Linked DNA regions of Homo sapiens. The protein of the gene in region 3 purifies or fractionates together with the protein of the main gene of each other region. This does not show direct contact. Each region holds a gene or a part of one and is shown on either strand. Other genes may lie near its edges.

Region 1 (3,823 bases), about 43 Mb from region 3:
AGAGATCTAGACCATCCTGGCTAACACGGTGAAACCCCGTCTCTACTAAAAATACAAAAAATTAGCCGGGCGAGGTGGCGGGTGCCTGTAGTCCCAGCTACTCGGGAGGCTGAGGCAGGAGAATGGCATGAACCCTGGGCGGCGGAGCCTGCAGTGAGCCGAGATCGCGCCACTGCACTCCAGCCTGGGCGACAGTGAGACTCCCTCTCAAAAAAAAAGAAAAAAAAAAAAGATTTTTTTTTTTTTTTGGCCAGGGGCGGTGGTTCATGCCTGTAATCCCAGCACTTTGGGAGGCCGAAGCCTGAGGTCAGGAGTTCAAGATCAGCCTGGCCAACACAGCGAAACCCTGTCTCTACTAAAAATACAAAAATTAGCTGGGCGTGGTGGTGGGCGCCTGTAATCCCAGCTACTCCGGAGGCTGAGGCAGAAGAATTGCTTGAACCCAGGAGGCGGAGGTTGCAGTGAGCCAGGATCGTGCCATTGCACTCCAGCCTGGGCGACAAGAGTGAAACCGTGTCTCAACAACAACAACAACAACAACAAAAAAGATTTCTTTTTCGTGGCCAGGTGCAGTGGCTCACGCCTGTAATCCCAGCACTTTGGAATGCTGAAGTGGGTGGATCACCTGAGGTCGGGAGTTCGAGACCAGCCTGACCAACACGGCGAAACCCCATCTCTACTAAAAATACAAAATTAGCTGGGCGTGGTGGCGCATGCCTGTAATCCCAGCTACTCGGGAGGCTGAGGCAGGAGAATCGCTTGAACCCAGGGCAGAGGTTGCAGTGAGCTGAGATCTCGCCATTGCACTCCAGCCTGGGCAACAAGAGCAAAACTCCGTCTCAAAAAAAAAAGATTTTTTTCTCTTTTTGTTTTTTGGTGTTCCTGCTTTACTGATACTCTAAACTGATTAGTCCTAGTAGCTGGGATCACAGGCGCCCGCCACCACACCCAGCTGATTTTTTGTATTTTTAGTAGAGACGGGTTTCACTATGTTAGCCAGGCTGGTCTCAAAATCCTGACCTCAGGCAATCCACCCGCCTTGGCCTCCCAAAGTGCTGGGATTAGAGGCGTGAGCTGCCGCGCCCAGCCTTGCCTATTGAGAATCTAGTACTGCCTCTACCTCTGGCTCCGGGAGTACCTATGCGGTGCTACCTCTTGTCCTGCTCAAAAGGCAGACGCCCCCATCTCCCTCCCACCCTGTGGCATCCCGCCCCAGCTCTACCCGAAGCAGTGCTTCCGCAGACTCAAGGCAAACCTGCCCGCCTGATACTCTGCCCCATTCATGAGGGATGGTTCCGTCTCTGTGTCCTCGATCAGCACGGCCAGCTCACTGTCCCGCTTCCCCAGCAAGCTCCGGTCATTGATGTTTGCAGAACCTGGGGTGGATGCGGGGCACACTGTGTGCTTGGGCCCAGGGCACTCTCCCCAGTACCCCATCCCCTCTACCAAAGCACTGGCCTGCAACATTCCTTCTTGGACCCTCCACCCCTACACGAGCCTCAGCTGCAGTCTCTGTCATCCTGCCTCTCATCTCTTCGCCTGTCCCCACACCCTCTCCCTGCCAGAGGACTAGATCCGGCACTGACCAATGATGACTGTCCGGTCATCTGCGATGAGCACCTTGCTGTGGATGTAGATGAGCTCCGAGACGGGGTGCCCGCCCAGCTCTCCGTGTGTACGAAGCCCGCAGATGGAAATATAGTCCCGCCATGCTGTCCCCACTGCGTGACAGGAGGGGAAGTGAGGTGAGAGGTGGCTCTGTGTGCACAGGGCCCTGTCCCACCTCCTCTCACTCCAGAAACTCTTCCTACATAGAGTCTGGTCTCTCTCCTTCTCCCTGCAGTGAAAGGCCAGCTATGGTCTGCGTAGCGTCAGAGGCTCACAGGAGTGACAGCCTCCTTCCCCCACCCCCAGGCCTGCAGCGCCCCAATCTCCCTCTCCCAGGGGCCCAGGGCTTGAGCCCCCAGCCCCCAGCACTCACTGGCTGCTTTAAGGCGATGCAGGATTGAATACTCCCCACGACACAGGGTCCTGAGAGAAAAGAAAGAGGGAGAGAAGTGGAGGCTGGCAGAGGGGAGGGGAGGTCAGGAGAGGTGGCCCTTCTTTAAGGCCCAGCAGGAAGGGATCAGGACAGAATCAGGAGGGGGACACGGGTGGGATGGGGCCACTGAGAGCTGGAGTCCGCCTGGGGGGTCACCTGTAAGTAAAGTGCAGAATGGCCTGGATGGAGTTGCCACCGCCCGTGGAGATGTCACCCTCGAAGCCAGGGAGTAAGGGCAAAAGCACGTAGACTCGGTAACACCACCCCTGTCTGGGGAGGGGGTGGAGTCAGAGGTGCGACTGGTCCCTCAAACCCCACCCCCTTCAACCGGGCTCAAACCACACCCACAGTCCCCACCTTCCTGACAGTCCACCTTACTTGTGGGCCTTCAGGATTCTGTCCACAATCTCATCGCCCACCTTGTTCAGAACCGTCCGCCCATCTGAGCAGCTAATGAAGAACTGATTCTGGGGCAAGAATCAGAGACAGACATCAGCAGCCTGGCCCCTGGCCCTGTCCTCGGCCTCCAGCCTTGGTCCCAGGCTCCAGGCGTCTGCTTCTGCTCCACCAGCCCTCAATGACTGACTCCACTCATTCCCCAGGTCTCTCTCCTGGGACACCCCTTCCATGCTCTCCCCCACCTCCTCCCAGTCAGACCTCAATGTAGAGGAAGTGCTGGCTCTCCCTGATGGTGTGCAGGTAGGCATTGAGGATGGAGTTCTCCAGAGTCCCTGCTGACCAGCGGTCCACTGATCGCAAGACCTAGGGAATGGTGAATGCGATGTGCTTCATTTCTTTTCTTTTTTAAGACAGAGTCTCGCTCTGTTGCCTAGGCTGGAGTGCAGTGGCATGATCTCCGCTCACTGCAAGCTCCTCCTCCTGGGTTCACGCCATTCTCCTGCCTCAGCCTCCTAAGTAGCTGGGACTACAGGTACGCACCACCACTCCCGGCTAATTTTTTGTATTTTTAGTAGAGACAGGGTTTCATGGTGTTAGCCAGGATGGTCTTGCTCTCCGGACCTCGTGATCCGCCTGCCTCGGCCTCCCAAAGTGCTGGGATTACAGGCGTAAGCCACTGCGCCTGGCCTTTTATTTTATTTTTGAGATGGAGTCTCACTCTGTTGCCCAGGCTGGAGTGCAGTGGCGTGATCTCAGCTCACTACAACATCCTCCTCCTGGGTTCAAGCGATTCTCCTGCCTTAGCCTCCCTAGTAGCTGGGACTACAGGTACGCACCACCACGCCCGGCTAATTTTTTGTATTTTTAGTAGAGATGGGGTTTCACCATGTTAGCCAGGATGGTCTCGATCTCCGGACCTTGTGATCCGCCTGCCTTGGCCTTCCAAAGTGCTGGGATTATAGGCGTGAGCCACCGTGCCTGGCCGTGATGTGCTTCTTAACCCCAGGAAAGGAGAGTGTGGGCAGCTCTCACACCAGGGAGAGTGGGTTGGGGTGTTAGGCTGAAGGAGACAAAGGGGAGGGCTGGCTGAAGTGGGGGGCCTCACCTGTACGGTGGTGCACTGCCCTCCTGGAAGTGTGAAGGGGAGCTGATTGGCCGTGCTGGTAGACTTGGGAAGCAGGTAGGGGTATGTGGGAGTCTTGTACTTGGCCTTGGTGGTCTGACGTGGAGGGATGGCAGAGTCAGCAGGAGGTGCCAATCTGCCCTGGCTCCCTCCCTACCTCCAGCCCCTATCGGAGGGAATGAACACCTTGGTGAAGTTCCAGCGCTGGATGAAGTGCCGGGCAAGGTCCCGGGCCGGTAGGCCATGGACGACCACCCCAA
Region 2 (3,823 bases), on a different chromosome or scaffold from region 3:
ATGAACAAATGAATGAATCAATGAATTAATCTTTATCTCTTACCAGTTGGGTCTTGGGCATCCTATTCGCCGAGATGTGTCCTTACAAATGAGAAGACAATTACAAGGGCATCTAACATATTTCTTGCCTGTTGGGGGGTTTTTGATTGGCTGGATAAGGGAAGAAAATGCAAACACAGCAATTAACCAAAGTACAGATTGTCAAAGTTTGTTTGTGTTTAAAAAGGAAAGGATTCCATTAAAACTAATGAAATATATTGCTTTTGTAACTTAAGGTTTTATTTTATGATTTTTCTATAAAACATATGAAGTCAAGTATTCATGTTTTGTGGTCCTTCAAGACACAATAATCACTGGCTGACTTTTTTTAGTCTTTTCTAAAGAGAAAAAAATAAAACATCAAAGATAAAATTAATATTTAATTGCAGATTTTGAGAGATCAAAATGTAATATATAAAGCCTAACTATGAAAGAAATATATTTCATCTAAACCAGTGTATGCTTTACCAGTTTATTACTTGAAGCTATAAAAATACTGCTGAAAATTTAGTTGCTCCCCAAAGCTCAATTTTTAAAAAAGGAAAGGTGTTATTCAATATTTTAAACATTCCTAAATTACTATCAACTAAATTGAATAAAATGTCAAACTATTTGTAAACACTTTGGCACAGATGCTAATAATAAATGCATAATCACAAAAGCCCAGAAAAACAATAGTGACATCCTACAGACATAAAATAACTTCAAATAATTTTCCACATAAATAGGGCAAAGTTTACATCTGTAATGAAGTTTAGTACACAATATTTTCATTTTAATGAAAACAAGAATGAATGTAGTTGTGATGTGGATAGATATTGAAAGTATTTATACGTAACTGCCATGCTCAGTCTAGTTTTTGAAAGTAAAAAGCCAAAAGGCATTATATTTAAATTCACCATGAAATTCTCTTAATGGGGTTAGCTTTAAACACAGTGAGGTATCCTATGATGAAAGAGAGACAGAAGAAAAGACAGGAAAAAAGATTACCATATTTGTATCCAGCCCACATATACTTTTAAGTAACATTATTGAAGTACTTCCTTTAGGAATAAAATGTCAAATAACAATTTATATTTTTTCTAATGGAAATCTCCACTTACCGTAGCTTCATTGCAAACTGTGCACTTAACCACATGCTGGTGAAGCTTGCCATCCAAATTGATTAGTGATTGGCACACACGGCAGTTTATTACTGGAATACCACTGGCGTCTGGACTGGCAATGGCTGTATATGGAGGTGGGAGCTCCGCTGAAAAGATATTAGTCACTGAATCAGAGTCTTGGAGAAATTACTATGGCTGGTTTGAGTATAGAGGCAATATAAGTAAAGAAGAAACAATCAAGATTTTCCCACGTTCTTTTATTTATTTTTCAAAGCTAGCCAATTTATCTTACTTTTAGAGCACAAACATCCATGAGACTCTTATCAAGTAAAATAATTCTTAACTCTGATAAAATCTAAATCATGTTTGCCTAGGTCTATCCCAATAACCCAGTTTCCTTTTACTAATCTATACTCAAAATGTCACTCCATTCCTATTAGTAAATTCATACAGTCTCTAACAGGAGAGTGGTAATTTATGCCTACAATAAAAATTTTACACAAGTGATCTGATTCCCAGGAAATAAAAATGGTCGATGAAAGCAAAGTTTTAAAATTGCTTATCCATACATATAAATTATGTAGCTGTCATGCTCTGTCTTTATATTGGAACCAGTATAATGACTGCTGGCTATGACAAGAATAAAACAAGGTGTTGGAGGAAGTCAAGAAGAAACAAAAATGAACCTAAGAAAACTAAACTTCTCAGCATGGAACAAAAATGGGAACCATGCTAATTTCAGACACAAAACAAAAATAAAGTAAATATAACAATTTTTAGTCTCAAAATTTACCTACCATTAAAAATGTAAGAAATGCACCAAAGTGTTTATGAGTAAAAAAATGTAGTATGTGGGATTAAAAACTTCAAAAACCATAACAACAACCACCACAAAAAGAATGGGGAACCAGATGAAACAAGTAGCAAAATGTTGATAACTGATGAATATAATGACATGGAAGGTCATAGTTTCACACTACTTTTGTGTATGTTTGAAAATTCCCATAATACAAAGACACACACACAGTGTTTTTTTTGAGAGTCCTAAGGTTGACTCAGTGAGTGAGTGAAGGGTGGAGGCCCACTTTCAAAATCAAGTATCTACCAGAAGTGTATATTTGTTACAAAAGTCTGAGAAAAGGAATCCTGATATACTACTCTGGAATGGGATTTCTAAAGGAGACTGCCTAACCCCTTTCTGTAACTATCTCAACTACAGGAATAGAAGACTTTTCCAAGGTAAAGTTTTGTCTTGGGACATTTAGAAAGGGCCACACTCTAACATATGATTGAAGCACGAAAGAGAACTGGTATCTCAAGAGGCTTCTGTAACACTATAAAATATAATCACAATAGCTAAGCATAATAAGAGCTATTTTTGAAATAAAGGTTTTCTATCCACTGTATTAGGTCCTAAACTTTGTGATATTTTAAAAAGAATTAGAGCATAAAACATTTTGGTATGTTTAAAATACACATATTTCTACCTGATCCTTGGGTTATAATATAGGATTTTTTTCAGACTGCTAAGGATTAGCAACAAGTGGTATTCGTTCAAATGATTCATAAGACAAATTTCTGCAGCAGCCAAGGCTCTGAAAGAGGCCACTTTGAAATGACGATATGCTTATGTTTCTGGGAGGCTTATAACAGAACACTGCCAAACACTGAAATTCAAAAGAAGCTGTACATGTCTTAAATTATAAAAATAATTTTAAATCCATGAAAAGAATTTGAGCGTGATCCAGAGTGACCTGTAATGTATTAATCAAGAAGAAAAAAACATGTTAAAGAAACAATGAGTCAACAATATACTTAAGGTCTTGCAATTTGCAGATTACTTTGTCAGATCTCAATAAAGACATTATTCTTGGGGAAAGAATATGTACCTCACTAGAAATTCAAGACACACTGCCTGGTATATGATAATGAATATTATTTTAATAATTATTTGCAGTAGCATTATTAACAAAAGTTGCTTCCTCTCTGGCCTTTTCCTTGAGTTGTACAGTAACATTACATAGTTCTCTCGTAATCCCAGGTCTCTATCTTACACAGTATGATAGAAAGGAAACTTAAATGCAAGACAGTTTTATAAAGAAAACAAGGGCATTAGGGGGAGAGGAGGAAGTGACATATTGCTACACTACATAAAAGGACACCAACCCATACACTCCTCAGCTTTGCTCAAAGAAATCTCCTAAGAAAATTTCAGAGGGTGATCTTAACAATCATTAAAAGGGCATTAGAGCCAGTAAAACCCTGTGAATTTTTCTTCTAAGATTTGTACTATATAATTTTTAATCTGCCAAAAAAAAAACGCCTTCAATGACAGAAATATGCTCAAATCTACTCTTTTGGAGGCTTGGGAAGTGGAGGGACATGGACAGAACAAGCAGTGAAGATTATAAATCTAATATAAGAGAGACCATAAGCTCCACGAGGCCAGGGGCACATCTGGTTTGTCCACAGCTACTTCACCAGCGCTTGTCATAATGCCTGGTCTATGATGATGCTTACTAAATGTTTATTCAATGGTTGAATTAATTAATAAATCAGCGAGTCACTAAAATTTATTAGACATATCTATTTGTCTTGGAAAAATAACACCAAGTATTAGGTTGCTGCAAAAGTAACTGCGGTTTTTGCTACGACTTTCAAATAGCAAAAACCGCAAT
Region 3 (3,600 bases):
CTCCAGTGGGGATGCCTACATAGAATATTTCCTGAACTTTCACTCTGTCTCTATAGTTTACTCCAAAAGTGGATCCTATCCCTGAGTTTAATTTTCAAACCCACTGCTTTAGGGATTGCCTGCACTCTTAAAGTGGGTGGTCCAGCCAGCAGAGTTGAAAGAAGGACAAGGAGTTTGTGTTTGATGTGATGTAAAGGCTGGGAGAACTTACCCTGTTTAGGGATTGAGCTGGGATGTGGCTGTCGAGTGCTTTTCTGGCTTAACATTGTTTTTCTGTTCTTACTCAGGATTGGCAGGAGATTATAGCTCTGTATGAGAAGGACAACACCTACTTAGGTAAAGTGGCCCGGCCTGGGAGCCCTGGTATCCATGGGGAAGCCCACTCTCAGAGTTCTGAGATACCAGGCTTATAGGAGGCACAGTCTGTGAGTGGGAAGAGACTGGAGTGTAGATGTTGCCCATTTGTAGGTGGTAAAATCAATTGTTTTTGATGGAATTGATTTTCCCTGAGTGGAGTGCTGGGGGAAGGAGGAGGTCCAGGCCGGTAGTGGCCATTCGCCGTGCCTCAGCGAGCAGGTGTGTGTGGGTCCTCCACCACTCACCTCTTGGTTAGCGGGAGTGTGCTGCCCCCACCCCCACCCCCGCACCCCCATTCTACACAAGGCAGAAGAGGCACGGGTTTTTCTGGGAGCGAATATCAAGTGCCTGAGAGCAACTACAGGACTAACTGTGTTTGGGTTGGGTGTAGTATAAATAATAATAATGGCTAATATTTCCTGAGCATCTACTAAATGCAAGGAATTGTGCTTGGTGTGTCATGTGGATTCTCTCTTGCATCTTCATGATAAATGTTATTGTCGCTGTTTTACCGATGAGGGTTGGATTAGAGGGGTTAAACAACTTGTCTTAGGCTCCACAGCTGGGAACAAGTGGGGCTGGGAAGCTGACTTCGTGCTCTTCACCACCACAAAGGATGTGTGTGCATCCTGGGGCATGCCTGCCTCATGTGGGGGTGTCCTGGGCTGAATTTCCTGGGCACTTCTCAGTGGAACTCTCTAGCCTCCTGGTTCGGAATGTCAACTATGAGATCCCCTCACTGAAGAAGCAGATTGCCAAGTGCCAGCAGCTGCAGCAAGAATACAGCCGCAAGGAGGAGGAGTGCCAGGCAGGGGCTGCCGAGATGCGGGAGCAGTTCTACCACTCCTGCAAGCAGTATGGCATCACGGTGAGCGGCGGCAGCCTCTTCGCAGCCAGAGGACACCTGGGCCCCTGCTTGTCTTCCTCTGACCCCGTCTGACCCCTCAGCCTGGTTGCACCCCCTTTGGGCCAGTGTCTTACTTTTCTTCGGTCTTTGGATGTTTTCTTCAATCTGTTGGACTCCACCTCTTCTCCCCTCTCTAGGGCGAAAATGTCCGAGGAGAACTGCTGGCCCTGGTGAAGGACCTGCCGAGTCAGCTGGCTGAGATTGGGGCAGCGGCTCAGCAGTCCCTGGGGGAAGCCATTGACGTGTACCAGGCGTCTGTGGGGTTTGTGTGTGAGAGGTAGAGAGGCCTCAGCTTCTCCTGGTGGGGGTGCTTTGCCTGTGTTCCCCAGCTCATGACCCTTCTCCAGTTGTCTTGTTCCCATATAACATTTGAACTCTTTACACACCTGAACCTGTGGGGGCCTTGCCCATTTGACCATGTGGCCCAGGCCAAAGCCCAGTGTTGGCCTTACGCATGGTCGGCAGGAGAGTCAGTTGTGTGCTCTGTTGAAGCCCCACAGAGCAGGTGTTGCCAATGCTGCGGTTCGTGCAGAAGCGGGGAAACTCAACGGTGTACGAGTGGAGGACAGGGACAGAGCCCTCTGTGGTGGAACGACCCCACCTCGAGGAGCTTCCTGAGCAGGTGGCAGAAGATGCGGTAAGATGGGCCTTGTGATGAGCTGTAGGAGTGGAGTGGGAGCTGCTTGTCCCCTCCCCACCCCCAACAGCCCAACCCAAGACCCAGAGAGAAGAAGGGAGGATTTCTGTGAGAGTGACTGTAGGTAGAAGGGCCCAGGAGGCCCTACTCCTTTATTTTTCTGAGTATAGGTGAGTGAGTGCCACAGAGGCTTTGCAAGGTGGTTCGCTTTGAACTCGGAACCTCCATCATGTGAGCTCTCTGAAGATGGGCTTTCTTTGGGGTAGCTTAGAGGCCACTGCATTTGAACAGTGTGCTCTCTACAGAAGCAGCTGAGGCCTGTGGGAAGGCAGCCCCACCCTCCTTTTTAAATTAATTTATTTTTGAGACTGGGCCTTGCTCTGTTGCCCAGGCTGGAGTGCAGTGGCATGATCCTTGCTGACTGCAACCTCTGCCTCTCAGCCTCAAGCGATCCTCCCAAGTCAGCCTCCAAGATAGCTGGGATTACAGGTTTGCACCACCACTCCTAGCTAATTTTTTATTAACATCTTTGTAGGGACAGGATTTTGCCATATTGCCCAGGCTGGTCTCAAACTCCTGGGCTCAAGCAATCCACTATCCTCGGCCTCCCAAAGTACTGGGGTTACAGACATGAGCCACCATGCCCGGCCCTTTTTAAATCCATCTTCCATGAGCTAACACTCTCTTTCCCTTTCCAGATTGACTGGGGCGACTTTGGGGTAGAGGCAGTGTCTGAGGGGACTGACTCTGGCATCTCTGCCGAGGCTGCTGGAATCGACTGGGGCATCTTCCCGGAATCAGATTCAAAGGTGAGGAGGCCTTCTCAGTCTGTCTCTCTCTGATCACTACTCTAACCATAAGAAAAGTGTCATTTGTGTCTGTAACGGCATCACTTGAAGTTCATAGCTCTAAGACCAGGTATAGTCCAAGGGAGGCAGAGTTTCACACGTCACATGTCAGAGTTTTGTTTTGTTTTTTGAGACAGAGTCTCATTCTGTCGCCCAGGCTGGAGTGCAGTGGTGCAATCTCGGCTCACTGCAACTTCCGCCTCCCAGGTTCAAGTGATTCTCCTGCCTCAGCCTCCCAAGTAGCTGTGATTATAGGCGCCCACCACCACACCCCTCTAATTTTTTATTTTGTTTGTTTGTTTGTTGAGACAGAGTCTCACTCTGTCGCCCAGGCTGGAGTGCAGTGGCATCATCTTGGCTCACTGCAACCTCTGCCTCCCGGGTTCACGCCATTCTCCTGCCTCAGCCTCCTGAGTAGCTGGGACTACAGGCGCCCGCCACCACGCCCGGCTAATTGTTTTGTATTTTTAGTAGAGATGGGGTTTCACCATGTTAGCCAGATGGTCTCGATCTCCTGACCTCGTGATCCGCCCGCCTCAGCCTCCCAAAGTGCTGGGATTACAGGCGTGAGCCACCGCGCCCGGCTAATTTTTGTATTTTTAATAGAGACAGGGTTTCGCCGTGTTGGCCATGCTGGTAACTCCTGACCTCAGGTGATCCACCTGCCTCGGCCTCCTGAGGTGCTGGGATTACAAGCGTGAGCCACTGCGCCCAGCCCATGTGAGAGTTAAATTTTGATGTCCTTTTTCTTGGTGTTTGGTACAGGGTGTAGGGGTAAAGGCAGGTGGGAACACTACAGAGCAGGGATGATGGGCCATACTGCCATTTTTGGCACCTAAGTCAGGGCTGCA

Evidence for each region.
Region 1: the proteins of CDK5RAP3 (region 3) and PLD2 purify together in Homo sapiens (co-immunoprecipitation; 3 studies listed by BioGRID and IntAct, with this or other methods). This does not show direct contact.
Region 2: the proteins of CDK5RAP3 (region 3) and PIP4P2 purify together in Homo sapiens (affinity purification with mass spectrometry; 4 studies listed by BioGRID and IntAct, with this or other methods). This does not show direct contact.

Annotation. Positions count from the first base shown.
Region 1 is NC_000017.11:4,816,982-4,820,804, reverse strand, and holds part of PLD2 (phospholipase D2), read right to left. Parts: coding exon 3,750-3,823; intron 3,730-3,749; coding exon of another isoform or gene 3,660-3,729; coding exon 3,546-3,659; intron 2,804-3,545; coding exon 2,699-2,803; intron 2,509-2,698; coding exon 2,420-2,508; intron 2,312-2,419; coding exon 2,198-2,311; intron 2,032-2,197; coding exon 1,982-2,031; intron 1,722-1,981; coding exon 1,587-1,721; intron 1,377-1,586; coding exon 1,223-1,376; intron 1-1,222.
Region 2 is NC_000008.11:91,020,114-91,023,936, forward strand, and holds part of PIP4P2 (type 2 phosphatidylinositol 4,5-bisphosphate 4-phosphatase), read right to left. Parts: intron 1,292-3,823; coding exon 1,143-1,291; intron 151-1,142; coding exon 44-150; intron 1-43. UniProt on the Homo sapiens protein: Catalyzes the hydrolysis of phosphatidylinositol-4,5-bisphosphate (PtdIns-4,5-P2) to phosphatidylinositol-4-phosphate (PtdIns-4-P).
Region 3 is NC_000017.11:47,974,113-47,977,712, forward strand, and holds part of CDK5RAP3 (CDK5 regulatory subunit-associated protein 3), read left to right. Parts: intron 1-287; coding exon 288-336; exon of another isoform or gene 337-973; coding exon of another isoform or gene 974-1,046; coding exon 1,047-1,225; intron 1,226-1,401; coding exon 1,402-1,541; exon of another isoform or gene 1,542-1,756; coding exon 1,757-1,901; intron 1,902-2,599; coding exon 2,600-2,710; intron 2,711-3,600. UniProt on the Homo sapiens protein: Substrate adapter of E3 ligase complexes mediating ufmylation, the covalent attachment of the ubiquitin-like modifier UFM1 to substrate proteins, and which is involved in various processes, such as ribosome recycling and reticulophagy (also called ER-phagy).